Linked DNA regions of Homo sapiens. The protein of the gene in region 1 binds, or shares a complex with, the protein of each later gene. Each region holds a gene or a part of one and is shown in the gene's direction. Other genes may lie near its edges.

The links.
Region 2: CACNA1C (region 1) and STAC3 share a complex: the UniProt entries of both Homo sapiens proteins name them as parts of the calcium channel complex.
Region 3: CACNA1C (region 1) and CACNG1 share a complex: the UniProt entries of both Homo sapiens proteins name them as parts of the calcium channel complex.
Region 4: CACNA1C (region 1) and CACNB3 share a complex: the UniProt entries of both Homo sapiens proteins name them as parts of the calcium channel complex.

The regions. Positions count from the first base shown.
Region 1 is NC_000012.12:2,580,654-2,588,739, forward strand, and holds part of CACNA1C (voltage-dependent L-type calcium channel subunit alpha-1C), read left to right. Parts: intron 1-936; coding exon 937-1,144; intron 1,145-2,168; coding exon 2,169-2,289; intron 2,290-3,849; coding exon 3,850-3,964; intron 3,965-4,722; coding exon 4,723-4,843; intron 4,844-5,181; coding exon 5,182-5,251; intron 5,252-8,086. UniProt on the Homo sapiens protein: Pore-forming, alpha-1C subunit of the voltage-gated calcium channel that gives rise to L-type calcium currents. Mediates influx of calcium ions into the cytoplasm, and thereby triggers calcium release from the sarcoplasm.
Region 2 is NC_000012.12:57,241,872-57,248,187, reverse strand, and holds the end of STAC3 (SH3 and cysteine-rich domain-containing protein 3), read left to right. Parts: coding exon 1-62; intron 63-1,286; coding exon 1,287-1,384; intron 1,385-2,976; coding exon 2,977-3,043; intron 3,044-3,222; coding exon 3,223-3,272; intron 3,273-3,565; coding exon 3,566-3,651; intron 3,652-3,821; coding exon 3,822-3,873; intron 3,874-3,962; coding exon 3,963-4,100; intron 4,101-4,277; coding exon 4,278-4,376; 3' UTR 4,377-4,730; downstream 4,731-6,316. UniProt on the Homo sapiens protein: Required for normal excitation-contraction coupling in skeletal muscle and for normal muscle contraction in response to membrane depolarization. Required for normal Ca(2+) release from the sarcplasmic reticulum, which ultimately leads to muscle contraction.
Region 3 is NC_000017.11:67,040,210-67,048,222, forward strand, and holds the start of CACNG1 (voltage-dependent calcium channel gamma-1 subunit), read left to right. Parts: upstream 1-4,344; 5' UTR 4,345-4,451; coding exon 4,452-4,680; intron 4,681-8,013. UniProt on the Homo sapiens protein: Regulatory subunit of the voltage-gated calcium channel that gives rise to L-type calcium currents in skeletal muscle. Regulates channel inactivation kinetics.
Region 4 is NC_000012.12:48,820,851-48,828,936, forward strand, and holds part of CACNB3 (voltage-dependent L-type calcium channel subunit beta-3), read left to right. Parts: intron 1-2,493; coding exon 2,494-2,616; intron 2,617-2,830; coding exon 2,831-2,953; intron 2,954-3,407; coding exon 3,408-3,523; intron 3,524-3,818; coding exon 3,819-3,883; intron 3,884-4,098; coding exon 4,099-4,118; intron 4,119-4,312; coding exon 4,313-4,393; intron 4,394-4,583; coding exon 4,584-4,642; intron 4,643-4,809; coding exon 4,810-4,919; intron 4,920-5,394; coding exon of another isoform or gene 5,395-5,468; exon of another isoform or gene 5,469-5,516; coding exon 5,517-5,668; intron 5,669-5,908; coding exon 5,909-6,004; intron 6,005-6,123; coding exon 6,124-6,273; intron 6,274-6,734; coding exon 6,735-7,049; 3' UTR 7,050-8,086. UniProt on the Homo sapiens protein: Regulatory subunit of the voltage-gated calcium channel that gives rise to L-type calcium currents. Increases CACNA1B peak calcium current and shifts the voltage dependencies of channel activation and inactivation.

The DNA.
Region 1 (8,086 bases):
TGTCATGAGAAAGGGATTTTCCCAGGATCGCTGTATTTATAGTGGAGAGAGGCCCCAGGACTGTAAGGAGTGGGGACCTCCTCCCCAGGAATCCCACTGAAAGCCCATGTCCCCTCAGGACCGAGCTCCTGCCCACTCAGAGGACTCGTGCTTTGAGCTGCCCCAGTGGGTGTGACAGGTTTGCTATAATCTAGGATTTCCCAGACTCACCTGCTGATCAGAATCCTGTAGGATGCTTGTTAGAAACAAAGATATCTGGGCCCCAAACTACAGCTAATGAATCACAATCTCAAGAGGAAAGGCCCTTAAAGAAACAATTCTTAGGACAGCGTAAACTTGGGAAACCACCAAGCCATGAACTCTCTCTTACCCGTGGGTGACCTAATTCCTGCCTCTGCTAGAAGGCTGCTGCCTATAGGCTGAGCTCAGACTGGCATTCATGGTGGGGGAAAAAAAGCTTTCTTTCTGTTTAGAGACCAACAGTGACAACAATGATTACCAACCTTTATCAACTATGTGCCAGGCACTCTACAGGGGGCTCTTTGGGGAAAGGTGGATCATGTCACGCAATCCTGCCATAGCCTAATGAAGCAAGGGCTACAACAATCTCCATTTTTTTGATGGGGATGCAGAAGGCAGGGAAGTGAAATGTCTTGCCCAGAGGCACATGCAGCAGGTAGCCGGCAGAGCTAGGTCGCGGGCTTCTGACCACTGTCCCCCTCTCTTCCCCAACAGATTAATCATCTTGAGACCTTGAATTAACTCCCTCCAGGGTGGCAACTCACACCACCACCAACACGCATCCCCCACGGGCAGGGAAAAAGAGCATAGAGTGGCAGCTCCTCTGAGAACCTGCAGTGGGCAGTTGTGAGAATGAGGCACGATGGGGAGGACAGCAAGGGGCAGAGTGCTGACCTCCCTCCTGTTGGCTCTCAGGTACTGGAACTCCTTGAGCAACCTGGTGGCATCCTTGCTGAACTCTGTGCGCTCCATCGCCTCCCTGCTCCTTCTCCTCTTCCTCTTCATCATCATCTTCTCCCTCCTGGGGATGCAGCTCTTTGGAGGAAAGTTCAACTTTGATGAGATGCAGACCCGGAGGAGCACATTCGATAACTTCCCCCAGTCCCTCCTCACTGTGTTTCAGGTATGGACTCTTCTCTGCTGGGATTCGGACTCGGGGTGGTTGAGTGGCGGGGTGGTGGGAGGAGTGTGGGAAGCTGCACCCTTTTACCGGGCAGCCACAGCCATCCTAGATCAGCCCTGGAGAGCCCATGCCCGGGAGAGTCTTGAGTTTTTTCTGTAGTTTCCCTGTCCCCATCTGCCATGGAATTCCACTAGTGGGTGGACCATTAGGGGAAACAATATAAGTGGTTTAAAAATGCCTTCTCAGGAGAATCTCTTGAACCCAGGAGGCAGAGGTTGCAGTGAGCCAAGATTGCACCACTGCACACTCTAGCCTAGGTGACGGAGCAAGACTCCGTCTCAAATAAAAAAAAAAAAAATCGTTCTTATCCATGGAATCCTTTACTTAAATTCTCCATGAAAGCCCAAAACATAAAGAAAAGCAGACTGCTCTTACTGGGGGAGGGGAGGGTGACGAAACCCTGGCTTTCCTACCATGCTTGTCTCTTGAAAAAAATATTACTAGCCCATCAAATTTGTGATTTCATAGATATTTTGGCTTAGGGCAAACTCAAAGTGGCATCTATTTAAGTTTAAAAGCAGATCGATTGAGAGGTAAAAATGAATCACATGTAGATGTTGTCAAAGTCTTGAAGATGATGCCCCAGTGACGAATGTTTGGGGAAAGCTGGTGTAGCCTGTGGCTGTCTCAGCAAACACACAACTGCAAAAGGGTCCTGACGCCTTACCCCCAGGAATGGCTGACGGTCAGCTCAAGCATGTGTGGGGAAAGTCAGAGATCTTTGGGCCAAAAAGCCCTTTTAGTCACCCTTCAAATAATATTATGCCAATAGCCAGGCATTTTGTCTAAGGACAGTTCAATAGCTCAGAGCCCCTGGGGAGGAGAATTGGGGGCCAGGAGGAGGGAAAGAAGTGAAAGGGAAATTTTGGACAATTTTGTTGACGTAGTGGGGCAGGGCAGGGTGGTTTTGGGTTTGCTGTTGGTCTAACGCTGTGTCCCTTATTGGTGGGAATGTGTCATTCAGATCCTGACCGGGGAGGACTGGAATTCGGTGATGTATGATGGGATCATGGCTTATGGCGGCCCCTCTTTTCCAGGGATGTTAGTCTGTATTTACTTCATCATCCTCTTCATCTGTGGAAACTGTATCCTTTGCTGCTGCCCCCCACCCCTGCGGCCCCCAGCCCCCAGCCTGCAGCACAGTGCCAAACGGGCACGCCCCTCAGGTCCGGGCGGTCCTGCTCGGGCTCACACCACCCAGCCTAGAACCCCATGGCGGCGGAGGTGGGTCTGGGTGGAAACCTGCAGCTTTGGCATGGGTGAGGTTCACCTTCCTGAACCCTCCGGGCCCGCAGCGGCGCCGCGCTCCGGGCGGGCTGTCGCCGTAATCTGGGTGAGCGGCGCCCCCTGGCGTTGCGGCGTGTGCGGCCACTCACACCGCCTGCGATAGGGACGCGCGGGAGCGGGCCGGCTGCCCTGGGGCCGCGGCGTCTGCTCAGAGGCGGGACGCTCCGGGAGGGAGGATGAGCCGTTGTCCTTCAAGTGACCTTCAGCTCTCCTCCTGCTTTTTGGTCAGCAGCCCTCTCTCTGATGCTGCTCTCCAGGACTTTAGTCACGGGCAGAGCTGCACAGACTTCAAACAGCCCCAAAAGCTCCTTCCTGATCCCGGCTGGGGCAGGTTTCCAGGGCACAAGCCACGGGTGCTGCTTCTCTTCCCCAGCTCATAACCCCGAGAGAGTCACGTCCAGAGCCAGGGGTAACATAGGAACAGCTCTGGGCCAAGTCCCAGCTAAGGCAGTGCAGAAAACACAGTCATGGAAGCCTGCAGACAAGGTTTCCTCTTTTCCCAGCTGGATGACCTCTTGCAGATTGAAGGTCCTCTACCTCAGTGTCTGTAAAATGTGGCAATGGAATCATAGAACCTACTACATAAAGGGTCGTTGGGAGTTTTCATGGGATCATGCATGCAAGGCCTCTGCCACATTCAGAAGCCACCCTGGACAAAGCCCCTCTTCCCCAGCCTGGGTTGCTGCGGCTTCCCTGTGTGTGAAATGATATGAATGTCTGGGTGCCTGGGGCCGGGGGTCAGACTTCACAGACTTAAAGCCCCCTTCCAGCTATGCTTTCGTTGATTCTGCAGTTCTCTGACCCACAGTGTTTCTGTTGGTGGAGTGGGGAGGAGAAAGGGCAAAGAACTGTCTCCACTGGGAACTCCCAAGCCTTGGCTGGCTCCAGATGGACCCTCCAAGGGTCTTCGTGGGTGCAGGCTCACATTAAGAGTTGGCAGAGATACCAAGCCACCCCCTCAGCGCCCAGTTATAATAAACCGCTCTTAAGAGCGTTCTGCATCCTGCTAGAGACAATGCTGTTTATAATGTCAATTACAGCCAGTCATCTCAGCAGGGAAAGCAATCATGAAACCCAGCAATTAAAGTGCAAGGCAGGGCTTGCTGCCTCCCTCCCGCCTGCTCCAGTGTGCAGGCTAGCCTGTTCTCATCCCTCTTGATAGCTCCAGGTAGCTAGGAGGGTGATGGGGAGGAAGGGGAGGGGAGGAACACTGTTGGGGTCTGACTCCCTCAAATTGCTTCCCCCTCAAGCTCTCTCTGCTGAGGAGCTCTACCCTGCACGCCCCACATCCCCCGTGCCCCTGTGCCCACCAAAACCCCAAACCAAGGGTCATTTTCTTTAAGAATGGACACAAACAGATATCCTACTGAATGTGTTCTTGGCCATTGCTGTGGACAACCTGGCTGATGCTGAGAGCCTCACATCTGCCCAAAAGGAGGAGGAAGAGGAGAAGGAGAGAAAGAAGCTGGCCAGGTAACCCTCTAAGCTTGCCCAGGCCTGGGGCTCCAGGGCTCCCATTGTGGAATGTCTTCCCACTGGTGGCAGAGAGAGGCTTGACTGCTAGCCTCTGTTGGCTCTCCCTCCTAGGAGGACTCTGGGTTTGGGGCTTCCTAAGTTGGGCCTCTCTCCTAATTCCTAAGCATCACTCTGGTAGGGACCATCATGAATTATAATAATCTCTGCAATGGTGTCATATTCTCCACCTGCTGGGATTATCTTTTGAGAAGCTGTGATAGGTGGCAGGAGTGTAGGGTGGGGAGAGAGAAAGGTAACCACTCAGTTGGGAAACGCAGCTCCAGCTTACAGAGGGAGTCCTCCTCACTACTTTATAATTCATCTCCAGTGTTAGGAAGGCAAGACGGGGCCCTATGTTGTATCCTATCATTATCTAGACGGGACAGTTCCAGGCCACACAGCTGCCGGGCACTGAGCAGAGCTCCTCCAGGAGCCAATCCTAGATGAGATCCACCATCCTTTTCTGCTTTGGCGACCCAGGCATCTCTGGAGCTGCAAGAGGCCAATTGCGTGTCAGGCAGAGCAGGTGTAGCTCAGCCCCATAGCACTTGTGACTGAGCTGCACACGAGAAGCGTCCTGGAGAAAGGAAGATGGACTCAGACCCAGGGGATCTGTCCCCTCTGGCCCCAACAGGCCACAGGGCGGTTCCCTCCTACACTGTTCCCTATCACTCCAGTAAACAGCCATTTATTTTTTTCTGCTGCTGACTGGCCAGGACTGCCAGCCCAGAGAAGAAACAAGAGTTGGTGGAGAAGCCGGCAGTGGGGGAATCCAAGGAGGAGAAGATTGAGCTGAAATCCATCACGGCTGACGGAGAGTCTCCACCCGCCACCAAGGTGAGGAGCTGTCTCCTTCCTGGAGCTGTGAGGCCGGTGCTGGGGAGGGAGGGCCACAGCCTTCCCAGGCCAGAACCCTGTGGAGAAGAGGAGAGAAAGAAAGACACCCAGTGGAAAGAAAGCCAGTGGGGATGAACAGGAGAGCTGGGAGGGGGAAGATAAGGCAGATTGGCTGGATCCCAGCCATCTGCTGATGTCTTGAAGGAGATATGCAAAGTGACAAGTACCTATTTTTGAGCTAAGTCACTGACTAAAATGCAACTTCAAGGCTACTGCAAGCCTCTTAACTTGGGGACGTATCTAACTATTCTTCCCCCTTCTCCCCTGTGACTGTCTAGATCAACATGGATGACCTCCAGCCCAATGAAAATGAGGATAAGAGCCCCTACCCCAACCCAGAAACTACAGGTACCAGTCCCACTGCCTAACCTGGGATTGGGAGATTGGGGGCAGAGATCTAAATTCTAAAGCCACGTGGGAGTGGCCATATATTAGGGACCATGGTTCCAGTGTCCCTCTGTAAGTACCTTCCACTGCTGAGTGTCTTCTATCTCTATATTTAAGCATCATCAGTCAGCATCTGGGAGGCAGGTTTGTTTCTGGTTTCCTCATAATGAGATCACATTTGAGCAGTGCTTTTGTGTCCTTTCCAAGTTGGATTCAGTGTACATTTAAATTTTTGTTACATTACATGTTGTAAAATCATCATTAATTTATATAATGTATTAGTATGGCATATGTTGCAACATTATGCTCACTTAATATTAATAGTCAATCCCAAGTCTGCCTTGCCCCTACTCAGGAGGCAGTGCCGAGTGCAGGGACAGCTGCCACCACAGATGTCCCACTTGTTGCTTTAGGCAATGATTTCAGGTCTCATTATAAAAGGCGCGCTTACTGACTCCATCTTTTTATGCTTCTATCTGATACCTAAATTGGCAGGCAGTCTGCTTCTCAAGAGCTTTAATGTCAGAGATCAGAGGTCCTCCCTCCAGGCTTCACTTCCCTGCTCCCTGAAATCCCATACCCTGTGCAAGGCCTGGGCTTGCCTTCCTCTGACCTAGGATTGCAGATATTATCGCCAGTTTCAAGCTTGAAGTCAATAACATGCTATCAAGGGACTGTTGATTTTACTGACATTTCCTTGTTCCTGTAGGTTAGGCTATATTTGGGTTGTTCACCAAGTTAGGTGGCTGAGAACCTCCTACATTTATGAGCAAAGCTCGGTTTCCCTTTTTGCTTTCCCTCCGCTGGTTCTCTGCTTAGAACACTCACAGGCATCCTTGGGAACCAGACTCCCTGTGGTCACACCATCCTCACTCCCCTCCTCCTGCAAGGGAATAGGATGTGGTTTCCTGGAGCTTGGATAGAAAGAACAGGAAGGGCGTTTTCATATGCCCGGCATTAAGGCTTTGAAGTTCTTAAAACCCCTTCTAGGGTGAAACCGTTAGGGAATTTCAACGACGTACTAGAATTATTGAACAAATGCAATGGGAGGATCTTGCCTTGATCCTGAAGCAACAAATACACTTTAAAATGACGTTTTAGAGGGAAATGGGGGAAATTGAATATGGACTGGGAACTAAATGATTGAAAGTAGTTTTGTTAATCTTGTTGGTATAATATTTTGTAGTTCTGTTTTTAAACTGCTGCAGTGTTTATGGCCAGAGTCTAAATGTTTACGAGTTGCTTTGCTTTTAAAATATTCCAACAAAAAAAAAATGGGGACAGAGAAGATAAATGGAACAAGATTAGCAAAATGTCCAAAGTTGTTGAAGCTGGTTATATATATGAGGTTTAGTATGTGAGACTGTACTCTTGTGTAAATCTTTAAGGTTTAAAATGAAAGACAGTAATAAAACAAATTCCTTAGAGCCCTGAGAAGAGCCCTCCCATGGGGCCAGCCTCCAGGATGGGCCTCCCTGCACACACAACAGGGCAGATCTAGCATGAGGGTCTTTTCACACAGGCACCCAGCTGCAGCCAGGCCTGTACGGCAGATACACCTCTTGCATCTTCAACAAAAATCTCAAATTCTATTAATCTATACTCTTGGCTTTTCTTTTCTTTGTTGCTCTAATGAAATCAAAGAGAAGAATGTTAATTTTAAAAAAAAAGGGCTAATGAGGATTTTGTCACCAGGTCGGCCATCCTAGAAATGCCTCTCACGTAGCTACCCAGTGGCTCTGAGGACTGGGGGATGCTTACGCTTTCCAGCTGAAAAGCTCTTCCCACCCTCTGCTGAGGCCTCAGGATTCTTGAGATTTTTGAGTGTACGGCCCGCTCCCCGTCATTTCTGTTGGTTACATGTGTCTCTTTACTTTCGTGTTGAGACCTCTGGTCCATACCCTGAGGCTGCCCTGACTGCCCCACCACGTACACCAGCCACCACTCCGGCCTCTGAAGCCAGCCCCAAGCATGCCCATTTGTGCACTATCCCTGGTTTCCAGGTCCTCATCCAGGAGGTCCAAAGGGCAGCATGCTCTTAAAGCTGGTGGCCCCACACATCACTCTGCCCCCAAAGGCTAAGTTAGCTTGTGCTTCCCAGCTCTTCCTGCCTTCCCATTTCCTCCCTTCCCTGCCTCCACAGTCAGCTCCTGGATCCTTTAGTGCCAGGTGCAGCAGAAGTTCCCAGAGACTCCTCCGAAGATCACGTGGCCTGTTGTCTCTGTTCTGGTCAATCTCTGGTTCCTTCCTGCTTCTTGTTCTCCCGAACCACGAATGGCAAAGATCCTGATCTACCATTGTGCTCCCAACCGCTGCCCCTTCCAGGCCGCTGGCCCCTGCCATGCCTGGTTCATGCAGGTACCCCTTAGCAGGCAGCACTGGTGAGTGTCCCTCCTGCTCTGCCTTCAGCCAGACCACTAGGGAGAAAGGGCCGGTGTCAGGGAGCACACTGCCATGCTCTCCTGCTCCCTCCCTGTCTCTCTCTTGCCCTGTCTCCTAGGCTTGCCCCCTGCCCTCTCCCTCTCTCCTGGGCTGTCCAGATTGCACCCAAAGTGATGTATCAGAGTGGCCAAGTGGGAGCTGGACTCCAGAGTGCACTCTGCTGGCTGCAGCTTCAATTACCCTCGCATGACCGCGAATACTCAGAGGAGGGGCCTGTTTCTAATTCAACAAGGGGCCATCGAGGCCAGCCATGGCCCTAGAATCCTTCCCTCTCTGTTTCATCTGAAAAGCTCGCCAGCTGCTTTCAACCTCCCAGATCGGTATACCCTAATTATAGAGAAAAACCCAACTCAC
Region 2 (6,316 bases), about 55 Mb from region 1:
CCATCGGGCCTATAGTTCCCCACTCTACAGCAACCAGCAGTACGCTTGTGTCAAAGATCTCTGTAAGTGCCCTTTATGGAACATGAGGGAATGGGCAAGCCTAGAGATGGTTTCATGCCATCTCTAGCTTTGGGAGCCAAATTCTGAAACAGAAACTTTCTGTTTCCCATAATTCTCCCTCAACCTCACATTTTTATATCCATTTGGATGCAGAGGCAATATCCCCATTTTACAGCAGAGGGAGATACGATTTAGTTGCAACTACATACAGTTAGCAAGAGGTAGAGCCAAGACTGGAATCTTCAGTTGCTAGCTTCAGAATCTGTGCTCTTTGTGTGCAAAATCATTTCTAAGCAAGAACAAGGATTCTAGATTGTCCTCATCCTTACTACAGAGTCATATCAGACTCGGGGCAAGACCCAAAGGCTGCAGGCACCCTGGGCAGGTTCATAATTTGGCAACCCAGGCCGGGCGCGGTGGCTCACGTTTGTAATCCCAGCACTTTGGGAGGCCGAGGCGGGTGGATCACGAGGTCAGGAGATCGAGACCACGGTGAAACCCCGTCTCTACTAAAAACACACAAAAATTAGCCGGGCGTGGTGGCAGGCGCCTGTAGTCCCAGCTACTCGGAGAGGCTGAGGCAGGAGAATGGCATGAACCCGGGAGGCGGAGCTTGCAGTGAGCCGAGATTGTGCCACTGTACTCCAGCCTGGGTGACAGAGCGAGACTCCGTCTCAAAAAAAAAAAAAAAAAAAAAAATAATAATAATAATAATAATAATAATTTGGCAACCCTTAAAAACATATTCATTGACAAATTTGCTCAACATTTATTTGGAGGAGAGGCTGAACTCTGTGAAGAGCATGGGTGAAAAAGAAGAACCTATTGGTGGCAGCACCTCAGCTTACACATGCCATTTAGCAGAACAAAAGCCAGCAGTTAAGGGCCCATTCTCCTTAGAAGGAGAATAGTGATTCTGCGCATGTCTCAGCTCCCAAGCAAGCAAAGTTGTGTTTCAAACATCATATAATGCTCTGCCTGGAAGGAGTTCTAATAAATACTTTCCTCCCTCACTTTACATCACCAGTGATGTTTTTAAAGTCCTTTATAGATTGGTGTCCTGGGTATTGCCTAGCTGACCCTTCCCTAATCTTCCCCGCGGCGCCCCCACCGCCACCCAACACACACATGGGTATCCATCTACTCAATCCCACCTCTCCCTTCCTTTCCTCCAAGCCTTTCTCTGCCTTCCCAATAATGTCTTCTTTCTCCTCCCATTCGATTAGCTGCTGCCAATCGCAATGATCCTGTGTTTGAAACCCTGCGCACTGGGGTGATCATGGCAAACAAGGAACGGAAGAAGGGACAGGCAGATAAGAAAAATGTGAGCACTGTACCTCCCCACGAGGTCCCTCCCAGAGATCCCATGGAGCAGGTCATTTTCCCATTTGGAAAGCTGACAGAAGTAATGGATTGTCTTCCCCTAAAATTGCACAAAACTCGGCCAGGCATGGTGGCTCACGCCTGTAATCCCAGCACTTTGGGAGGCCGAGGTGGGCAGATTACCTGAGGTCAGGAGTTCGAAACCTGCCTGGCCAACGTGGTGAAACCCTGTCTCTACTAAAAATACAAAAATAAAAATAAAAAATCCGGGTGTGGTGGTGCTCGCTTGTAATCCCAGCTACTTGGGAGGCTGAGGCAGGAGAATCGCTTGAACCCGGGAGGCAGAGGTTGCAGTAAGCCACTGCACTCCAGCCTGGGGGAGAAAGTGAGACCCTGTCAAGAAAAAAAAAAAAGGAAGGAAGGAAGGAAAGGAAGGAAGGAAGGGAAAAGAAAAGATAAATGTACATATCTGATCAAAAAAATCAACTGCAAAAAACAACTAGAAATCTGGCCTCAAACTTGTTGATATGGAGGTTGGACACAGATAAGGGATTTCTATGGAGTGAATTAATGACTTGTAAGGCACTAGCAATGTGATATGGCTGCTTCCAGAAGGGCTAACATACTCTTGGGTTATATTCTTTTAAGGGAATTATAAAAATTGTGCTGCTCTTTTTTTTTTTTTTTTTTTTTTTGAGATAGAGTTTCGCTCTTGTTGCCCAGGCTGGAGTGCAATGGCACGATCTCGGCTCACCGCAAACTCTGCCTCCCGGGTCCAAGCGATTATCCTGCCTCAGCCTCCCGAGTAGCTGGGATTACAGGCATGTGCCACCATGCCTGGCTAATTTTGTATTTTTAGTAGAGAGGAGATTTCTCCATGTTGGTCAGGCTGGTCTCGAACTCCCGACCTCAGGTGATCCGCCCACCTCGGCCTCCCAAAGTGCTGGGATTACAAGCATAAGCCACCGCGCCTGACCATGCTGCTCACTTTTTACTTACACACTGGAGTATTTTTAAAGGCTGACAGCATAGTCAAGGACCTGGAATCTGGTAGTGAATTCCCTGTTATTTAGCTACATTCAAGCAGAATGTGGGTGACCCACCTGATAGGATGTTTTAGGGAAAGTCCCTGCATGGCCGGGCACAGTGGGTCACGCCTGTAATCCCAGCACTTTGGGAGGCCGAGGCTGGTGGATCACGAGGTCAGGAGATTGAGATCATCCTGGCTAACACGGTGAAACCCCGTCTCTACTAAAAATACAAAAAATTAGCCGGGCGTGGTGGCAGGCGCCTGTAGTCCCAGCTACTCAGGAGGCTGTGGCAGGAGAATGGCGTGAACCTGGAGGCGGAGCTGGCACTGAGCCAAGATTGCGCCACTGCACTCCAGCCTGGGTGACGGAGGGAGACCCGTCTCAAAAAAAAAAAAAAAGTTCCTGCATTAGGCAGATGGCTGAACTAGATATTTCCTCCAAGGCCTCTTCCAACTCTGAGATCTCTGAGATCCCATTATTCTATAGTTCTCTGACCTGATTATAGACAGCCAGGGCATGTGTTCCCAAGACAGCGTCTCCCTAACTCTGGTGCCCCCTCCAGCCTGTAGCAGCCATGATGGAGGAGGAGCCAGAGTCGGCCAGACCAGAGGAAGGCAAACCCCAGGATGGTGAGTGTTACCCACCTCCATCCAGAGATGGAGTAGGATCAGAGGCTCAGCTGTGGAACAGAGGGTGGAGGAGCAAAGGGCAGGCCAGCTTTGGATAGACGAGGCCCTTCCACAAAAGGGTAAGAGAATAAGAATTGCCCTCCAGGAGACAGACAATTTGTTGGTGTTTCCTATCCCAGGAAACCCTGAAGGGGATAAGAAGGCTGAGAAGAAGACACCTGATGACAAGGTAAGAATCCTTCCTCCCTGCAAGGAACCCAGTTCTCTCCCCAACCCAGCTCTGACACCACTACTCATGGCCCTGGCAGAAGCTCACTCTTTAACTCCTAGGCTTCCCATCACTTCTGACCCACACTCTCCATCAACTTGCACACCCACCCACGACCAAAACACTTCTCTCAGTTCAGGGACCTAGAAGAGAGTTGGAGTGTAGAGTGTGTGGTGAATGTCCCTGCCTTGGAATCCTGCCCCTCAGTGTGGGGTAGAGGAGCCCTAAGACTCATCATTCCCTTGCACCCCCAGCACAAGCAGCCTGGCTTCCAGCAGTCTCATTACTTTGTGGCTCTCTATCGGTTCAAAGCCCTGGAGAAGGACGATCTGGATTTCCCGTGAGAGGCCTTGGGGCAGGGGGCTGGTACTGCGGAGTGAAGAGGAAAGAGCTGGGTTCCCCCAAGGGAAAGGAAAAGGGGGGACTCAGGGCTTGGAGCCTATTGATGCTGGACCCGGGGCACAGCAGGGGACCTGCTATGTGAGTGAGGCCCCTCCCTTCCCCTCCCAGGCCAGGAGAGAAGATCACAGTCATTGATGACTCCAATGAAGAATGGTGGCGGGTGAGAGAAATGGCTAGGGCTAGGGTGGAGTGTGGGTTGAGTCCAGAACCCGACATTGAGAGATGGACTCTCCCTACTATCTTCCCTAGGGGAAAATCGGGGAGAAGGTCGGATTTTTCCCTCCAAACTTCATCATTCGGGTCCGGGCTGGAGAACGTGTGCACCGCGTGACGAGATCCTTCGTGGGGAACCGCGAGATAGGGCAGATCACTCTCAAGAAGGACCAGGTAGGCTGTTGCCCCAACCCAATCCCAGGCCTGAATGCTCCCTAGCCCACCACACTCCTTGGAGAGCTTAACCATTAATAAGACTAGGGTGAGCCCCTGTAAACCCCGGCTCCCCTGCTGTCCTCTCCTACCTTTTCCTTTGATTCCTCTCCTACTTCTGATCCTTTAATCTTCTAGATCGTGGTGCAGAAAGGAGACGAAGCGGGCGGCTACGTCAAGGTCTACACCGGCCGCAAGGTGGGGCTGTTTCCCACCGACTTTCTAGAGGAAATTTAGGCGTGCGGGCGCCTGCAAGCGGGAGACACCCACACCCCATTCTGGGCGGGCCCAGTGGAGTTTGGGGAGGGGGGCGAAAGCAACGGGACTGCTGGGAGAGGAGGGGTAGGAAGGCCCGCCTGAGCGCGACGGGGCTTCCGGGAAGGGACTGGTTCTCGCCCCCTTCCCCAGCCTGGGGCCTCGGATACCTGCTGCCCAGAGCAGCCCGGACCCGAAACCTTTCAGGCCCCGCTTGCAAGAGCTGGAAAAAAACGCGTATCTACTAGGAGGAGCCAGGGACTGGGGCGGGGGGCGGGGGCGAGGGAGGGCGAACTGTCGAATGTTGCGAATTTATTAAACTTTTGACAAAACTTAGAAAAGTTGTTATTTAACTGGGGTTGAGGAGAGGGCCTGCGGAGGGGTGGAGAATCCTCCCTAGCTGTCCCGCCTCGTTACCATCGGGTAACCTGAGACCCATCTGGGCTGAGGTTGGCGGGAGGTGGGAAGTGCGCCCGCCAGGTGAGGCCTCTGTAGTCAGTAAAGAAAGGGGAGCGCAGGGCTGGAGTCGCCGCCCCCGCGCCCCAGCGGTTGGGAGCAGGATCTTGTAGTAGGGTAAGTCCCCCCTTGCTCTTGGCGATTTAGCCGCAGGCAGCCCCTTGCATTTCGGAATCTGGCTTGGCGCCGAGCTAGGCCGCCAGGGGGCGATGCAAGATCTCGGTTGGAGAGCGAGGGATGGGGAGGGGGTGGAGGGTGGGTAAGGGGAGACAACCAGAGACACCAAGCCCGAGACCCTGGGCCTGGGAGGGGGTGGGGTGCGTGCCGTCTCCATGGCAACACTTCCTCAAGTCCTCCGAGAACCGAGCTAGCTAGGCCGGGGGCCTAACCCCACCCGCGCGGCCCCTGCCCTAACCCTTTCCGACAGGTACCGAGTGAGAACGGAGGGCAGACAGCTAACCGGCTCTCGCGGAGACACCCCTGCGGAGCACCGTATGCAAATGTTATTATTTGCATATGCAAATATGCAAATACGCCGGCCCTGGTCAGGGCGGCAGGTGGCGAGGAGCAGGAAGGTGTGGGGAAGGGAGCAGAAGGAGACGAGGAGTTTGGGGACCTGAGAGCGGACCCAGTGAGAGGCAGGCTGGGGTGGTCGCTGGAGTGGGGCAGGCGTGTGTGGGGGGGGTCTTGAGCTCGATGCCGGGTGGGGGAGGGTCGGCTTGGCCAGCCAGGAGCTCCTCTTCTCGTCTGCCCGTTGTCTGCCAGGACCGAGGTTGGCACCGCCTAGCAAGGTTGGCAGCGGGAGCCCGGGCACCATCTGCTGCTGGCGGGGGGAGGGCAGAGGCTCAGCTGGGCTGGGGAAGAGGAGGCCTGGGACGGGCGCGCCCCCCTTCCAGAAGGCTGAGGTGTGATGGGGGTAGGGAAGCACACAAGAAGACTCTGCAGAACCGGGTTCAGTTTTCTGTTCCCTTTGCCCTTGACGGTCCCGGATGCCTGAGGGGGTGGGGGCGGAGTCATTAAAGAAGACCCCCCCCTTTAATCGCGATTGAGCTGGAATAGGAACAGATCACAGGCAAACACACACACCAACCACACGCAAATCAAGCATTCTGTCCTTATCCTTCCTTGAAATCCACCTACCAGGAATGTATGAGGGGAGGGACCGCGAGGGCTCGGGTCGTCTCTATTCATCAAGGTCTGAGGGACTCAAAATCAGAGCCCCCCGAGATCCTCGAGAGACCCCCGCCAATGCTAAGGCAAAACCAATTTACTGGCTCATTGGGCGGCAATGCTGGTGTGCGGATGCCGAGAAGCAGGGAGAGCGGCTGTTCTCCCCCAACACTCGGGGGGCGCCCCCCTCCCTAGCCTCACTGAGCCGGCAGCTGTCCCTAATTAGAGCGGCGGTTTAATTGGATTTATCAGCAGTTAATAGGAAATTAAGCAAAGGGCCCGAGAGAAGGGGGGCG
Region 3 (8,013 bases), on another chromosome or scaffold:
GATCACTTGAGGTCAGGAATTTGAGACCAGCCTGGCCAACATGGTGACACCCTGTCTCTACTAAAAATACAGAAATTAGCTGGGCATGATAGCACATGCCTATAATTCCAGCTACTTGAGAAGCTGAGGCAGGAGAATTGCTTGAACCCTGGAGGCGGAGATTGCAGTGAGCTGCGATCACACCACTGCACTCCAGCCTGGGTGACAGAGGGAGACTGCATCTCAAAAAAAGAAACATAAAAGTCTTTAAATCACGGGCTGCCTGCTCTCCTCCTGCAGGGGTGTACAGGGCGCACTTTGAGAACCCCAGCTGCGGGCTCAAGTCTCCCGAGGGGCCCATGTCCTGCCTGGAGCTCCTATTCTCCACACCTCTCCACGTAGGCTGAGTTCTGTCCCAGGAGACCCCACAGCCCCTCCCAGTATGATCTCAGCTGCCCTAACAGTTTGTGGACTCCTCAAGGGGAGGGAGTGGGTCTTCTGCTTGGCAGGACAGAAATCCCAGCGTGGGCCTTATTGTGCCCCAACTTAACTATGGCCCAAGCCCTGGCTGGCCTGTATGTTCTGGAGTCCTCAGGAGGGTCCTGGATCAATGGGGAGGGAAATGGCCACCGTGGCAGGGCAGCCAGAAAAAGCTGCCAGAAGTGGAGGCTAGCAGAGGGGGGTTGCGAAACAAAGGGAGTTGGACTGGTGCAGATAGGATAAAAACATCTCAGGGGTACAAGTAAGCATCAACATCTGGAGAACAGAACAGGAAAGAGCCCCCCAAATTTCCCACAACACTGTGAGTACCAGGCATCCAGGGCGATTGATTTCTTACCATTACGTCCTTCGCTGAATCAAGTACTCAGTACTCTATTAAATGCATGACGGCCACTCTCTGGTCTCCTCTTATGAGAACACTGCTACAGTTGGGCTCTGTGTCCCCATCCAAATCTCACCTTGAATTGTAATAATTCTGTGTCATGGGAAGGACCCAGTAGGAGGTAATTGAATCATGAGGGTGAGTCTTTCCTCTGCTATTCTCACGATAGTGAATAAATCTCACAAGATCTGATGGTTTTATAAAGGGCAGTTCCCTGCACGTGCTCTCTTGCCTAACGCCATGTAAGACGTGCCTTTGCTCCTTCTTCACCTTCCGCCATGATTGTGAGGCCTCCCCAGCCATGTGGAACTGTGAGTCCATTCAACCTCTTTCCTTTATAAATTACCAGTCTTGGGCATGTCTTTATTAGCAGTGTGAGAACAGACTAATACAGACACTGCTCCCATCACAAGGGCCCCACTTCCATGAGCTCATTTCATTATCTCCCAAAGATCCCACCTCTACACACCATCACACTGGGGGTTAGGCTTCAACATATGAACTTGGGGGAAACATGATTCAGCCCATAGCGCCTACTATGGCTAAGCTGGTCCAACGCACTCCCTCCAGCCCTTCCACCTGCTCCGCAGCCAGGCCCGTTGCCTTCATTTTACAAGAGGCAGCTTAGAAAGGCTAATGACTTACTGGAACGTGCACAGCTGGAGCCAAGCAGTGCAGGGATTTGCTCGGGGCTGGCCAGCTCCATCACCCTCTAGCTTGGTCCCCCTCTCGCATGCTGCCTCCCTGAGATGCTCCTCTCCCTGTTGCCCTGGAAAGGGTGAGATCTTGGGGGAGGACATGGATGTTGCCCTGCCCAACTTTCAGCAAATGCCTGTGGCTACTGAAGTCCCTTCCTGGCCCTTCCAGGCCCCTGGGGAACCAGGCAGGCAGCGCGGCAGCACCTCTGTGAGCAGAAAAGGTGTATTTGAGGGAGCTTTCAGTAAACAGGGAAGAGAAAGTGGACCTGCCCGCAGTAGCTGCAGCTGCGGGTCTCCTGGTGCGACTTACACAAAGATGACTTCAAAAGGCAGAGGCCATCAATCTTTAATGCTTTCACTGCACTGGGGCGGAGGACTCTGGACCCCTGCATGGGGCACAAACCTGCCCCCCATGGAGGGAAAGAGCAGCAGAAGTTCCTGGTTGCTGTCCTCACCAAGGCCTGGCATCTTTGAAGGGCCTGCAATGTCATCATGGCTGGCGCTGGGTGCACCCTCTGGGCTGGGCCCTTTCAGGGTGCTTTCCAAGGCCGTCAGAGGCTCTTGGCACCGAAGAGCTTAGGGCATCCACCCCCACCACACCAGGAAATTCAAAAGACACTTTCATTTTTCCAATGACACTGTATTTACTTGTAATGCTAAAATTAAATAGCTTCTTTCTAGATTTTCTGTCTTAAAACACTGGAACCCTCTTCTGGCTCCCCAGCTACTGCTTTGCTGGGTGCCTGGCACTCAGTAGGTCTAATCAAGCTGTACAGCACCTCCTGAGATCCCCAGGTGCCAGGATCCTGAAGCTGGGCCCCCACAAACAACAAGAGAGGGCTCAGAGGCTGCAGCCATGTCCCAGCTTCTGGGAATTCCCCATGGAGATGGTCTACCCACCTGGTGACAGGCAGTTTCTCCACGAGCTGAAGCAGGGGCGGTGGCATATGTCAACAGTCAGTCAGTGATCAGTCAGTTGTGATGGATTAGCACCCACAGGGAACACAGAGGTGGGGGGACAGGGAGGAAGGGAAGCAGAGATGAGAACAGTGGGGAGATAAGCTCTCAGGAGATTGTAATATGTATGAGAGACTGATTTTAAAAATATGGAAGTTTGGATGGAACTGCAATAAGCACAAGCCAGTGGCTGGAGATGCGAGGGTTCAGCTCAGCCCTGGGGCTGTTCACCAGGTAGTCCTGGCTCCTCACATCTCCTCTCTGGGCTGCAGATTCCTAATCTGTCACAATAGATCATGAAGTTTCTTCCCAGTTCCAACCATTCGTTATGACTTTGGGCTCTGGGTCCTGAAACCTGGATTCCTCATTTTCTCGCTGTGTGACCTTGGACAAGTGACTTCATGTCTCTGAGCTTCCATGTCCTTGTCTGTGAAATGGCAGTAACCGTTGTAGTCCCCTTGTGGATTGGTGTGAAGAGTAACTGTGACAATGGATGAAGGCTTAGCAGGGTACCTGGTAGATAGTAAGCACTCACTGAAGATGAGCCACTGTTCTGATTATCATCATCATGAACTTTCTGTGATTCTAAGGCTGGAGGCCGAAACATTTCTGTCCACATGGGCAGAGTCTCTGTAAATCGTGTCAATCTGAGGCCAGGATTTTGAAGCTCAAGGCCCCACCCAGCTCAGGAGGCTATTCCTGGTCATGCGTCAGCCTCTCGGCTACACCCAAAAAGGGCCACCCTGTGAGCCGAGAAGGAAGAGATGACACAACCCAGGAGAGATGTAGAGGCTGGAGCCTCGGAGACCAGCCTGGGGGCCAGGCGGGTGCACAGGACCGTCGGAGGGTGGTCGATCCCGGGCTTTCTGTGTTCTCTGCACGCCCATGAGCTCCTAATGATCCCCTATAAATCAACCTATTCATTCTTTTTTACTCACACACTTATTTTTCAAATTCAAACATAACTGGAAAGTCGTTATCACCTGCTGTTAATAGAAGGCAAAACCAAACAGTGCCCTGAAAAACAGAATGACCAAGTCCAGCAGGATTCCTCGTCCTCTTCGGGCCGTTCTCGCTTTGTTTCAAAGGACACTTTACAGGCAATAATGACACTGACCTCGAACAGAGCTTTGCTCTGGACCCAGTTTTGGGGATGGAAAGAGAATTGAAAAGGAAGTAATGTTCTCGTGGAGGGATCAGAGTTGGGTAAGGCCAGACCTGGGAACCACCTAAAACCTTCCTATGGTTTGGGGGATGCCGTGGGGTTTGTGGCTAAAACGCTTGCCTAAGAGGTGGACTCCACAGGCCCTGGACTGGGTTCCCGGGATGTCATTAGACAGAATCCTAGCCCCTCAGATCCCAGGATGAGAACCTACTCACTGCCCTGCCGGTAACAGGCTTACCCCGTGGGAGCCCGGGACAGCCGTGCAGCCCGCAGCTCCTGGTCTCCTCCCCTGGCCTGGGCTGCCCTTTCCCATCAGCCCAGAGCAGGCAGATCCCCACCCCCGGGGCCCTGCTGCCCACCTCTCGCCCTCTCCCAACTCAGGCACCCTGAGCTGCTACTCACAGAGGCCTCAATCTACCATCCAGAGCCTTCTCTCCTTGCCACCCTGCCCCGCCGCACTGGGGTATTTCTGGCTCCCAGAGGGGCAGAAAACCCTGAAACCCGAGCAGAAGCTGTCCTCGGTGCCACGCCTGGAGATGGGCATTAATAGCAGCCTCCCTCAGGCCCCTGACGCGTCTGGGCAGCTGCTCAGCACGTCCCGCGTCCCTCGGCCCCAAGGCCAGCCCACTCTGGCTCAGCCAGGCACACTAAACTTAGTGGCCACTCCCAGCTCGACAACCACTGCCACCCCCCAAGCTCGGCTTGTCACCTGCCCTAGGAGACGCAGCCGCCGGACCCTGCCCAGGGCACCCACGCCTCGGCGACCACCATGTCCCAGACCAAAATGCTGAAGGTCCGCGTGACCCTCTTCTGCATCCTGGCAGGCATCGTGCTGGCCATGACAGCCGTGGTAACCGACCACTGGGCTGTGCTGAGCCCCCACATGGAGCACCACAACACTACCTGCGAGGCGGCCCACTTCGGCCTCTGGCGGATTTGTACCAAGCGCATCCCCATGGACGACAGCAAGACCTGCGGGCCCATCACCCTGCCCGGGGGTAACGTACCCACCCTCCGTCCCGATCCCCACCTCCTGCTCTTCCCCGTCATCCCCCTGGCAAAGTTGCCCTTGCGAAGGAAGGCAGGTTTCTCTGCCTAGAAATAGGGCAGCCGCCCAGCCTTTTCTGCCCAGGGAAGAAGATATGAATTGCATGTGTGGTGCTGGTGGCTGGGGCTGGGTTGTAAGACGAGGGCGTTTGTCCCAGCTATTTCTGTCTGGCTGGACCTTGGGGCTTTTTGCCCAGAGCAGAGAGCTGGGCAGGCTCAAGAAAGGAACTGCAGCTCTACCAGCCCAGGGACTTCTGGGCCCCACCTGCTCACTCTCTCCCTGCAAAGAAAAGCTAGGTGGCTCTGTGTCCTCAGGCTAGGGGGACCCATGGGGCTGGCAGGTTTGTTCCTGGCCTCAAGGCAGGAGAGGAGAGAGCATAGGCGATGGAATTTGCAGGGTCCTGTGCAGAATGAAAATGCAGGGTTCCTTGCTCCAAATTACCAAGGATTTCAAGGCAGTGACAGCAGCACATGAAACCACACATGGGCCCTTGTGGGCTCTGGGCCTGGAGCAGCTGCACAGGTTGAATGTCTGTGAAGCAGGACATGGCTGTAGGCTGTAGGTGAGCCACCTGCCCCCACCTTCTTTTTTTTTTTTTTTTTTTTTTTGAGACAACTTTGTCGCTCAGGCTGGAGTGCAGTGGCATGATCTTGGCTCCCTGCAACTTCTGCCTCCTGGACTCAAGCGATTCTCCTGCCTCAGCTTCCCCAGTAGCTGGGATTACAGGCATGCACCACCACACCCATCTAATTTTTGTACTTTCAGTAGAGACGGGGTTTCACCATGTTGGTCAGGCTGGTCTCGAACTCCTGACCTCAGGTGATCCACCTGCCTTGGCCTCCCAGAGTGCTGGGATTACAGACGTGAGCCACCATGCCCGACCTCCACCTGTCCTTTTGTCAGGACTTCAGTCCTCTATGCATCCTGTCTTAGCTCAGACCCTGTCAGAGTTACAAAGCATTTCCTCACCCTGTAATTTAAGCGTATTCCTCGATTTCCTACCGTGTGACCGAACCACACGTTGAAGGTAAGGTCCTTTTCAGGAGTACCTGGTAGTCGCGTGACTAGCCTCTATTCTGCAAATGCAGAGGCTTCTGGATTCTTAGCAAATACAGCACTTTAGAGGAAAGAGTGCTCATGGAGACCAGGCAGCCAGGGATCTAATCGCCATTGCCCACTACCCTCAAATGACCATCCAGGGAGGACAAAGCTCATCTCAGCCTCTGCTTCTTCCTCTATAAAATATGGGACTGACTCTCAGCAACGTGAGATCCCTTCCTCGGCTTACAGACGCCCATCCACAGTGGCAGTGGAGCAGAGTGATGTCAGTGTGATGTCCCACCTGGTTTTCAGGATTATTTCCTCTTTTATCAGACTAGGTGTTCCTTGAAACCTGTCCTTCAAGGACACTAGGGCTAAGTCCCCAAAGATCTTGCAGTCTGCTTGTGAGGCAAAGAGCACAGACCCCATCCTCCCTTGTCTCTGCTCCCTCTTCCTTCCCTCCTGCTTGCTCCAGAGATCCCCTCCCTTGTTCAGCCCCACTGGAGGCCCAGAAGACTCATAAGTGCCCAGCTGTTGTAGAAACACCAAGTCCCAGGGCTGAGAGTGACAGGTGTGGCCATGTGCTTGCAGGGTATCGCATAGCCCGGATGCCCATGCCCCTTGGCCACTGCTGAGCACACCCATAAACAGGAACAGCCTCCAGCCAACTCCCCTGGGCAGGGCAGGGCAGGGCAGGGCAGGGCAAGGCAGCTTCTTCAGGGACCACACATGGGGACGTGCTGTTACAGTCCTGTTCACCCGTCCTTGGAACCATCTGCCTTTTAAAGTCAGAGCAGAAGACTGGGCAGTGAGCAGAATCCACACAAGGAAGAGACAGGCTGGTGAGAGGTGACTGGACCAATTGCAGGGGGCCAACAGGCATTGCTTGGCCTTGAGCCTGACAGGATCTACCTCTTTGCCTTCTTAGCCTAACCAGCTATGAACCACACCTCCCACACTTGTGACACTGAGCACTACCTTTCCCCCAGTAATCTTCCAAAATATGTTCCTGCCTTTTTCCCTCTCTTTTCTCTGCAAATGGACATCTTTCTCCTTCCCCATCTGCCCTTCTTGTGCTCCCTGGGACCACTCTTCTCTGGAGGGAGGAAGTGGGTTCATATGTGGCCCGTCATCTATTATTAACAACAATAATAATAATGGCACATACATGTAGCCCTGTGTGCCAAATATTGTTGTAAACGCTTTACATATATTAACTTTGAAAGACATCAGGAAAAAAAATGATAGAAAAAGAACCTCCAAAAATAATCTTCTCCATAATAGTAATGAGAAGGCTGGCAGAAATGGTCAGAATCAACATTTTCAGAACTCTGGAAATTAACCAAAGTCTTGCAGCAATCCAGCAAGAAAAATGGGTGAATCTCAGGAGGACCAGTGAGTTCTGTGGTGTTTTAACTTGCCTTATTCCTGTTTCCCTTTCCCAGCTCTGTGGTAACCTTGCAAACCAACATTCCGTAATCACAGTGAAAATCAGCATCCCAGTAGCCTCTGGAGGGGAGAGAATGGGGTTGGATCAAAGGCCCATTCCCAGAGAGTTGTCATTATTTGACCTGTCTGGTGATTCCCTGAAAACCCCCACTTGAGAAGCTGTTTCTGTTTGACCTGACTCTGAGCTCATCCAGTGCAAATAGTCTTTCTCCCTGGGGATGTTTGTTGAAAATAATTAGAGATGATTGATTAACATCATGGCTGTCTGAGGCAGTAGATAACAGTTAGGGAAAACAACAGGCTAACCAAAAAACTGGAGACTGAAATGTCCATAAGTTGCTTTGAAAAGCTCCAACATATTCCTGGGAATCTAGGAGGCCACATGCATGCACAATGCTATATGCATGCTCAGGAAAGACCTGAGAAGGCCCTAAGCACTCTCTGCCTTATCTTGAGACTCTGTTCAAGCAGGAAGTGAAGGCTAAGGCAGAGATGTGGGTGGCTTAGCTGAGCATGAAAGTCATATGCACAGAGCCCCTCAGTAAAGACTGGGAGAGGCATTGTTGCCAAGCGTTTTAGGAAATTTATAATTGGTCACTAAGCTAATTGAACAGGGATCTCAGTGATCACACATGACAAAAAACACATACTTTACCATCTTAGTTCAAAAAAGTCACTAAACAAACAACGGGAACAAATCTTCAAGAAGGGGGAACAACTGATTTCCAGAGTTGCCACATTATATTGTTTAAAAAATACTGGCTGGGTGTGGTGGCTCACTCCTGTATTCCCA
Region 4 (8,086 bases), about 46 Mb from region 1:
CCAGGGTGAGAGGTCAGGTAAGCCAGATGCCTCAGGCGTTATGATTACTAAATTAGGCCGCCAGCGGTGCCTCACACCTGTAATCCCAGCACTTTGGGTGGCCGAGGTAGATCACTTGAGGTCAGGAGTTGGAGACCAGCCTGGCCAATATGGTGAAACCCTGTGTCTACTAAAAATATAAAAATTAGCCCAGCATGGTGGCACATGCCTGTAGTCCCAACTACTCAGGAGGCTGGGGCAGTAGAATTGCTTGAACCCGGGAGGCAGAGGTTGCAGTGAGCCGACATCGCACCATTACATTCCAGCCTGGGCATCACAGTGAAACTCCATCTCAAAAAAAAAAAAAAAATTACTAAATTAAACCAGGCATAGAGACTCATGCCTATAATCCCAATGCTTTGGGAGGCTAAGGTAGGAAGATGGCTTAAGCCCAGGAGTTTGAGACCAGCCTAGGCAACATAGCAAGATCCTGTCTCTACAAAAAACTAGTAGGCATGGTAGCGCATGCCTGTAGTCGTAGCTACTCAGGAGACAGGAGGATCGCTTGAGCCCAGGAGTTCAAGCCTGCAGTGAGCTACGATTGTGCCACTACACTCCAGCCTGGGTGACAGAGCAAGACCTGTCTCTAAGTAAATAAATAAAATAATAAAAATAAAGATTACTAAATTGGGCTGAGAGCCTGGAGCACAGGCAGAAAAGGTCAGACTCCTCTTTTAGCACAGTTCTGGGCCTCTGGGAGGTACCCAATGTATCTGTACCAAAGCGAGTGGTCATCTGCCTTGCCTCCTGCCTCCCAGTCTGTTGGCCCCTGTCTGGTTGCTTCAGACACCAACATCCCACAGAGGTTTCTCTTGTGTCCTAAGACCCCTGGGAAGGAGGTCCCTCACCCTGTGCAAAGATTATTTCTGGGGTTCATCCCCCACTTATCCTGCTGCCATCCAGCCTCATTTTGTTCTCAGGAGAGATGAGGAACAGTCGGCGGACTACTCTTCTGTAAAATGAAAGATCTTTCCCCCTTGTGCTATCTTCAGGCCTTTGGTCTACTATAGACACTGTCTTTAGCCTAAGGCTCGAGAGCCTGGGCTGACCCCTAGCTGAACAGCCCTCTTGCCCACGGCAGGGTAGGGGTAGAGGGCATGGTTGACAGCAGGTATGTGATTTTGCCTTCTTCTCTGAGAGTCTGGCCTCTGCTGCCTTCCGTAGGTGGTCATGCCCAGTGAGCTTGAGAGAATGTTCCTCTACCTGAGGACATTCTAAAGCCCCTTCCCCTATACACACACACACTCCTGCATGAACCCCTTATCTAGGCTTATCCCTTCTCTCTGCCACTGGCATCTCAGAATTGTGGGAAGTATCACTTGAGGCTTCTCCCCACAGAGAGGGAAAACTGAGGCAGGAAACGAAAGACTCCCTTTCCCTGACAGAGGAGGAAACCCAGACATTGTAACCTCTGGGCTCTTGTCTCAAAGTCCAGCGTCCCTTACTCATTTGTGCCTCTCCCTCATGGTCTTGAGGCTGAACTCTGTGACCGTCAAATGCACCCTCATTGCCCAAGACCTTTCCTATGGGCAGGACTCAGAGACTCTCCTTGCTCATGTTACCCCCTCCCCACATCCCCGGGGTCCTGCTCCGTAGCTAGGTTGCCTGGCACTAGCATAGCCTTCTTCTAGGGCTGATGTCCCCTGGGCCTGGGAAAGGACTAGGGAGATGTAGGCCAAGTGGTAGGTGTGGCCCAGCCTCACCTGCACCCAGGGAGACAGCTTTGTGTTCTTGGTCTGTGTCTTGTTTGCTGCCCACACCTGGCTAGTTGCCCCAGCAGGTGTGGAAGGAAGAAAAGTAGGGGGTGGGGAGAGCAAAGGGGAGGTAACTTCTAGGAGCTGGCAGCTTTGTGTCCTCCTCTTCACCCTGGAAGGGTAAGGGCTCACCATTTGGGAGCCTTCAGAGCCTTGTTGGAGTAGGGAAAGTGGAATCTTAGGGGGCAGATGGCTGGATCCCCACATTCAGGACTGGTGCTGTGCCAACCAGCATCTCTTGACTGTTGCGGCTGGCTGGACTCCTGACAGGCATCTTAAAGGGATGATGTCCAGGCTGCTTTGCAGGCTGCTATGAACAAGAGGGCTGGGTCTCCTGGATCCAGAATCATCTCTAATACATCATCTTCAGCACACCTCCCTTCCCTCGGCTCAGAGGACATGTTAGAGGGGAGAAAAGGGAGGAAAGAGAGAAGTGAAGGCTCTATTCAAAGCTGCAGTATTAATAGGCTTGGGGGAGGAGGGGCCCAGATCTTTGCACCTATGGATTGGGCCAGCTTTCCTGTAGCCTCAGAGGCACTGGGGCCCTTCTCAGGGGATAGGAGGGGCCATAGGGACCCAGCTATCCCCTTGGAGATGGAGAAACTGGGGGCAATAGAGGCAACACTGTAAGGTGAGGAGGGTGCCTCCATGGCATCCTTCATGCCGGAGCCTGGGAGTCACAGCCTCTTTCCCAACCCAGGGTTCAGCCGACTCCTACACCAGCCGCCCATCTCTGGACTCAGACGTCTCCCTGGAGGAGGACCGGGAGAGTGCCCGGCGTGAAGTAGAGAGCCAGGCTCAGCAGCAGCTCGAAAGGGCCAAGGTATACTTTCTGGGCATGGGGCAAGACAGGAGGCCAAGCTAGGTGGAAACCTGCACTCGGTCCTAAGTCCCAAGGGGTCCTTGGGCAGGATGTCCTTGAGTGTGAGAGGGTGTGTGTGATGGGCAGAGGCCACGGCCTTCTGCTGTTGGGGCACTGAAGCTGGAAGGGGTGCTTCGAGCCTTCTCTCACTTGCACTAATGGGCAAATTCTCCAGCACAAACCTGTGGCATTTGCGGTGAGGACCAATGTCAGCTACTGTGGCGTACTGGATGAGGAGTGCCCAGTCCAGGGCTCTGGAGTCAACTTTGAGGCCAAAGATTTTCTGCACATTAAAGAGGTGATCGACCCCCCTACTTCCAGAAGCCTCTAACTTCATTTTCTTGCTCTTGCTCCAGATCCTAATGCTTCTGACTTGAATCCTCAGTCTAATTCCCCAAGCTAATCAGCTCTTCTCCTTAACACACACCTGTCCACCCCTCATATCTAAGATCTCATCCCCAGGGTCTCCATCCTTCTGAGACCTGGCTTGGGCATCAGTCTCCATGTCTGTCAAGTGAGCAGTTAGATTAGCTGCCTCCGAGGTCCCCTGTGACAGCTGCAATGCCTCACTCAGAAATCCTGGGTGGCCCGAACTTGGCTGTCCTTTCCCCTGGCCCCTTCTGCCCACCGCCCCTTGCATTGCATTCCTCAGACCAGCTCAGTGACTGCCTCGCTGGCTCCTTCACATTGAAGAGCCAGGACTGGGGCGGGGCGCTTCTCTCACCACCCCTTCCTGCTCCACCTGCCCCCAGAAGTACAGCAATGACTGGTGGATCGGGCGGCTAGTGAAAGAGGGCGGGGACATCGCCTTCATCCCCAGCCCCCAGCGCCTGGAGAGCATCCGGCTCAAACAGGAGCAGAAGGCCAGGTGAGAGTTGGGCCATGAGTCAGTAAACACACCCCAAACACTTGCACTGTACCCACAGGACACGTCACCATGCATGCCATACACATGCATATCCCCCTGAAATACACATACACGTATGCCCAGCTCTACACACTCAACACTAAACAAATCTACAAACACACACACATATTGCATGTACACCTGTCTCACTAGATAAAGCATATGGAATTGTGTACAATTATTAAATAATGCATAGAACATACATACACAGAGACACATTCTTCTCTCTCTCTCTTTCACCTCCCTTTCTTCTCAGGAGATCTGGGAACCCTTCCAGCCTGAGTGACATTGGCAACCGACGCTCCCCTCCGCCATCTCTAGGTAGCCTCCCCCCAACCCACCCATTTTGGGTAGGTGGGTAGCTAAGACACAGGGAAAGAGGGGATCCTGCCCAAGTGAACTGTGTGGGAAGGGTTTGTGGAGGGATTGGAAGGGGTGGGGAGAAGCCAGTATCTCCCCTGGGGACGGGGATACCATGCCCCCAGGGACCTTTCCCCCTTCACCAACTTTAATCTTGTATTTCCTTTTCCAAAAAGCCAAGCAGAAGCAAAAGCAGGTGAGTCAAGGAAGGGACCTGGGCTGGGGGGATCATGGCTTATGGCTCTGGGGACAGTGTTCTAGGCAGTCATTGTTGGAGGGCAGAACAGAGAGGGGAGGGAGCCCAGAACCTCTGGATCTGCCCTGACGCCAACCAGGCATGAGACAGGCACCAGGGCCATGGTTTCTACTGACCTCATGTCCATTCTGCAGGCGGAACATGTTCCCCCATATGACGTGGTGCCCTCCATGCGGCCTGTGGTGCTGGTGGGACCCTCTCTGAAAGGTTATGAGGTGAGAGGAGGTCCTTGACCCCAAAGAGTCACCTCTACCAAGCCTGCCACAGGAAGTCCCTAGGGAAAGTGGAAGGGGTGTGTCTCCTCCGTCCAGGGTGTGTATGTGGAGCGCATTGACTCTGGGGCCATGCATGGGGAGGCTGCTTCTCTCCAAAGGGGCCCTTCATCAGTGCCATGCCTTCCCCCAGGTCACAGACATGATGCAGAAGGCTCTCTTCGACTTCCTCAAACACAGATTTGATGGCAGGTAAGCTGCCCTGGCCTGAGGTGGCCTGAGAACCAAGGAGAAGCTCATGGCCTACTTCCAGATGCCTGTAGCTAGTCTTCTCTAAGGGAAGAGTTAGTGGGAGCTGAGTAAGGAGAGGCTGAGGCACAGGTTTAGAAGCAAGCTGTGATTCTCCACTCCCACCCCAGGATCTCCATCACCCGAGTCACAGCCGACCTCTCCCTGGCAAAGCGATCTGTGCTCAACAATCCGGGCAAGAGGACCATCATTGAGCGCTCCTCTGCCCGCTCCAGCATTGGTGAGAAGTCCCCACCACCTGCTTCTGTGCCCACTCAAGTGCCAGTGAGAACCTTCCTCCTCCCTTTTCTTTTTTTTGAGATGGAGTCTCGCTCTGTCACCTAGGCTGGAGTGCAGTGGTGAGATCTCGGCTCACTGCAACCTCCACCTCCTGGGTTCAAGCGATCTTCCCATCTCAGCCTCCTGAGTAGCCGGGACTACAGGCGCCCATCACCACGCCCAGCTAATTTTTGCATTTTTAGTAGACGTGGGGTTTCACCATGTTGGCCAGGCTGGTCTCGAACTCCTGACCTCAAGTGATCGGCCCACCTTGGCCTCTCAAAATGCTGGGATTACAGGCATGAGCCACCATGCCTGGCCCCTCTTCCCTTTTCTCTTCCTTACCTCCTTGTCTTTCTGCCCAACTCCTCTACCTGCCCCCAGGATTGGCAAGAACACACCCCTCCTCCTCAATTCCCATTCCTCTGCCTGTCCAGGCTTCGATGAATGCCCTTTTCCTCCAATTCCTTCCTGTCCACCATTCGGGAGCCCTCAAAGCCTGCTGGAGTGAGCAGTGGGCAGAGCTCCTGGTGAGCACTGCTGCTGCCTCCCTCCATAGCGGAAGTGCAGAGTGAGATCGAGCGCATATTTGAGCTGGCCAAATCCCTGCAGCTAGTAGTGTTGGACGCTGACACCATCAACCACCCAGCACAGCTGGCCAAGACCTCGCTGGCCCCCATCATCGTCTTTGTCAAAGTGTCCTCACCAAAGGTAAGTCAGCTGGGCTCATGGAGGAGGCCCACAGGGCTATCCTACTAGAATGTGGCATGATTCTACTTGGTCCCTGCCTGGGGCACCTGAGTTCCCTTTTCCTGCTGCCCTTAACACAACTCTGAGTCATCCTCACCTGCTACTGATGCCACAAGTGGAAGAAATGCCTAGCTCTGCCCGGGCTCAGCTCTGCCCAGAGTCCTGAGAGACTCCAGGCCTAGCTCTGCCCTCCCCGCTCAGGTACTCCAGCGTCTCATTCGCTCCCGGGGGAAGTCACAGATGAAGCACCTGACCGTACAGATGATGGCATATGATAAGCTGGTTCAGTGCCCACCGGTGAGTGCCTGGGTCAGCTGCTCCTGTGCCCACTCCCCCAGGGCTGCGGCAGTGATAGAGATGGGTGGGGGGCTGCTACTGAGGGGAAACCAACGTTGCGCCTTCCTCCCCCTCCCCAGGAGTCATTTGATGTGATTCTGGATGAGAACCAGCTGGAGGATGCCTGTGAGCACCTGGCTGAGTACCTGGAGGTTTACTGGCGGGCCACGCACCACCCAGCCCCTGGCCCCGGACTTCTGGGTCCTCCCAGTGCCATCCCCGGACTTCAGGTAACCATTTCCAGTGGGCAGAGATGCTCAAGCTAAGCCAGCCAAGGCACTGCCCCTCCCTGCCCAGAGGACTGTCCTTGGCCTCCAGTTCAGCATGCCAAAGGATTGTAGAACTCTCAGCTCTGCTGTACAGAGCTAGCACAGACGGGCAAAGGAACTTCCTGAGGAGAGAGGGAATCAATCAATGAGATGGATACGTCAGAGATTAGTTTCCTAGGGGTCAAGAGAAACACAATCTCCAAACCTTCTCCCAGGCTGCCTTGAAGGCAGAGCCTGAATTTTGCGGGAGTCGAAGCTCCAGTTTTCTCTCTCGGAAGAGGAAAAATGCTCCAGCATGCTTTTTCCTTGCACTATTTCCTTTACCGGGGAATTGAGAGTTGAGGGGGGAAGAATCTCGCACCTCACCAGAAGACAAGGTGAGGTCTGTACTGCCTCACTGAGAGCTGTTGTATGGCCCCCAGAACCAGCAGCTGCTGGGGGAGCGTGGCGAGGAGCACTCCCCCCTTGAGCGGGACAGCTTGATGCCCTCTGATGAGGCCAGCGAGAGCTCCCGCCAAGCCTGGACAGGATCTTCACAGCGTAGCTCCCGCCACCTGGAGGAGGACTATGCAGATGCCTACCAGGACCTGTACCAGCCTCACCGCCAACACACCTCGGGGCTGCCTAGTGCTAACGGGCATGACCCCCAAGACCGGCTTCTAGCCCAGGACTCAGAGCACAACCACAGTGACCGGAACTGGCAGCGCAACCGGCCTTGGCCCAAGGATAGCTACTGACAGCCTCCTGCTGCCCTACCCTGGCAGGCACAGGCGCAGCTGGCTGGGGGGCCCACTCCAGGCAGGGTGGCGTTAGACTGGCATCAGGCTGGCACTAGGCTCAGCCCCCAAAACCCCCTGCCCAGCCCCAGCTTCAGGGCTGCCTGTGGTCCCAAGGTTCTGGGAGAAACAGGGGACCCCCTCACCTCCTGGGCAGTGACCCCTACTAGGCTCCCATTCCAGGTACTAGCTGTGTGTTCTGCACCCCTGGCACCTTCCTCTCCTCCCACACAGGAAGCTGCCCCACTGGGCAGTGCCCTCAGGCCAGGATCCCCTTAGCAGGGTCCTTCCCACCAGACTCAGGGAAGGGATGCCCCATTAAAGTGACAAAAGGGTGGGGTGTGGGCACCATGGCATGAGGAAGAAACAAGGTCCCTGAGCAGGCACAAGTCCTGACAGTCAAGGGACTGCTTTGGCATCCAGGGCCTCCAGTCACCTCACTGCCATACATTAGAAATGAGACAATCAAAGCCCCCCCAGGGTGGCACACCCATCTGTTTGCTGGGGTGTGGCAGCCACATCCAAGACTGGAGCAGCAGGCTGGCCACGCTCGGGCCAGAGAGAGCTCACAGCTGAAGCTCTTGGAGGGAAGGGCTCTCCTCACCCTGCCAGGAAGCTTCTTAACATGTGACAGGACCAGGGACCAGGAGCATGGTGAAGCCAAGTGGCAGATGGGAGCCAACCTGGATGGGGGTTTGGGGAAGGAGGGCATGTGTAGCAGAGAACTTAGGGGGGCCTCCTTGCCTTTCTCATTCTTTTGCCCTGCATCCTGTCATTTCTGTTCTTGTCCCTCATACATCTTTGGAGAACCGGGCTCCAGACTTTGTTCCCTGACTCATAGCTGCCGCTTGTTAGGTTAGGGTTAGATGGGGAGAGACAGGGCACAGAGGACCTGTCTCCCCGGCTACTCTTGCCTTATGGCTCTAGTGTGTGACCTACAGAGCATGCTCCACAAGCCCCTGCCTCACCTCACTGTCATCACTAATAAACATCATGCA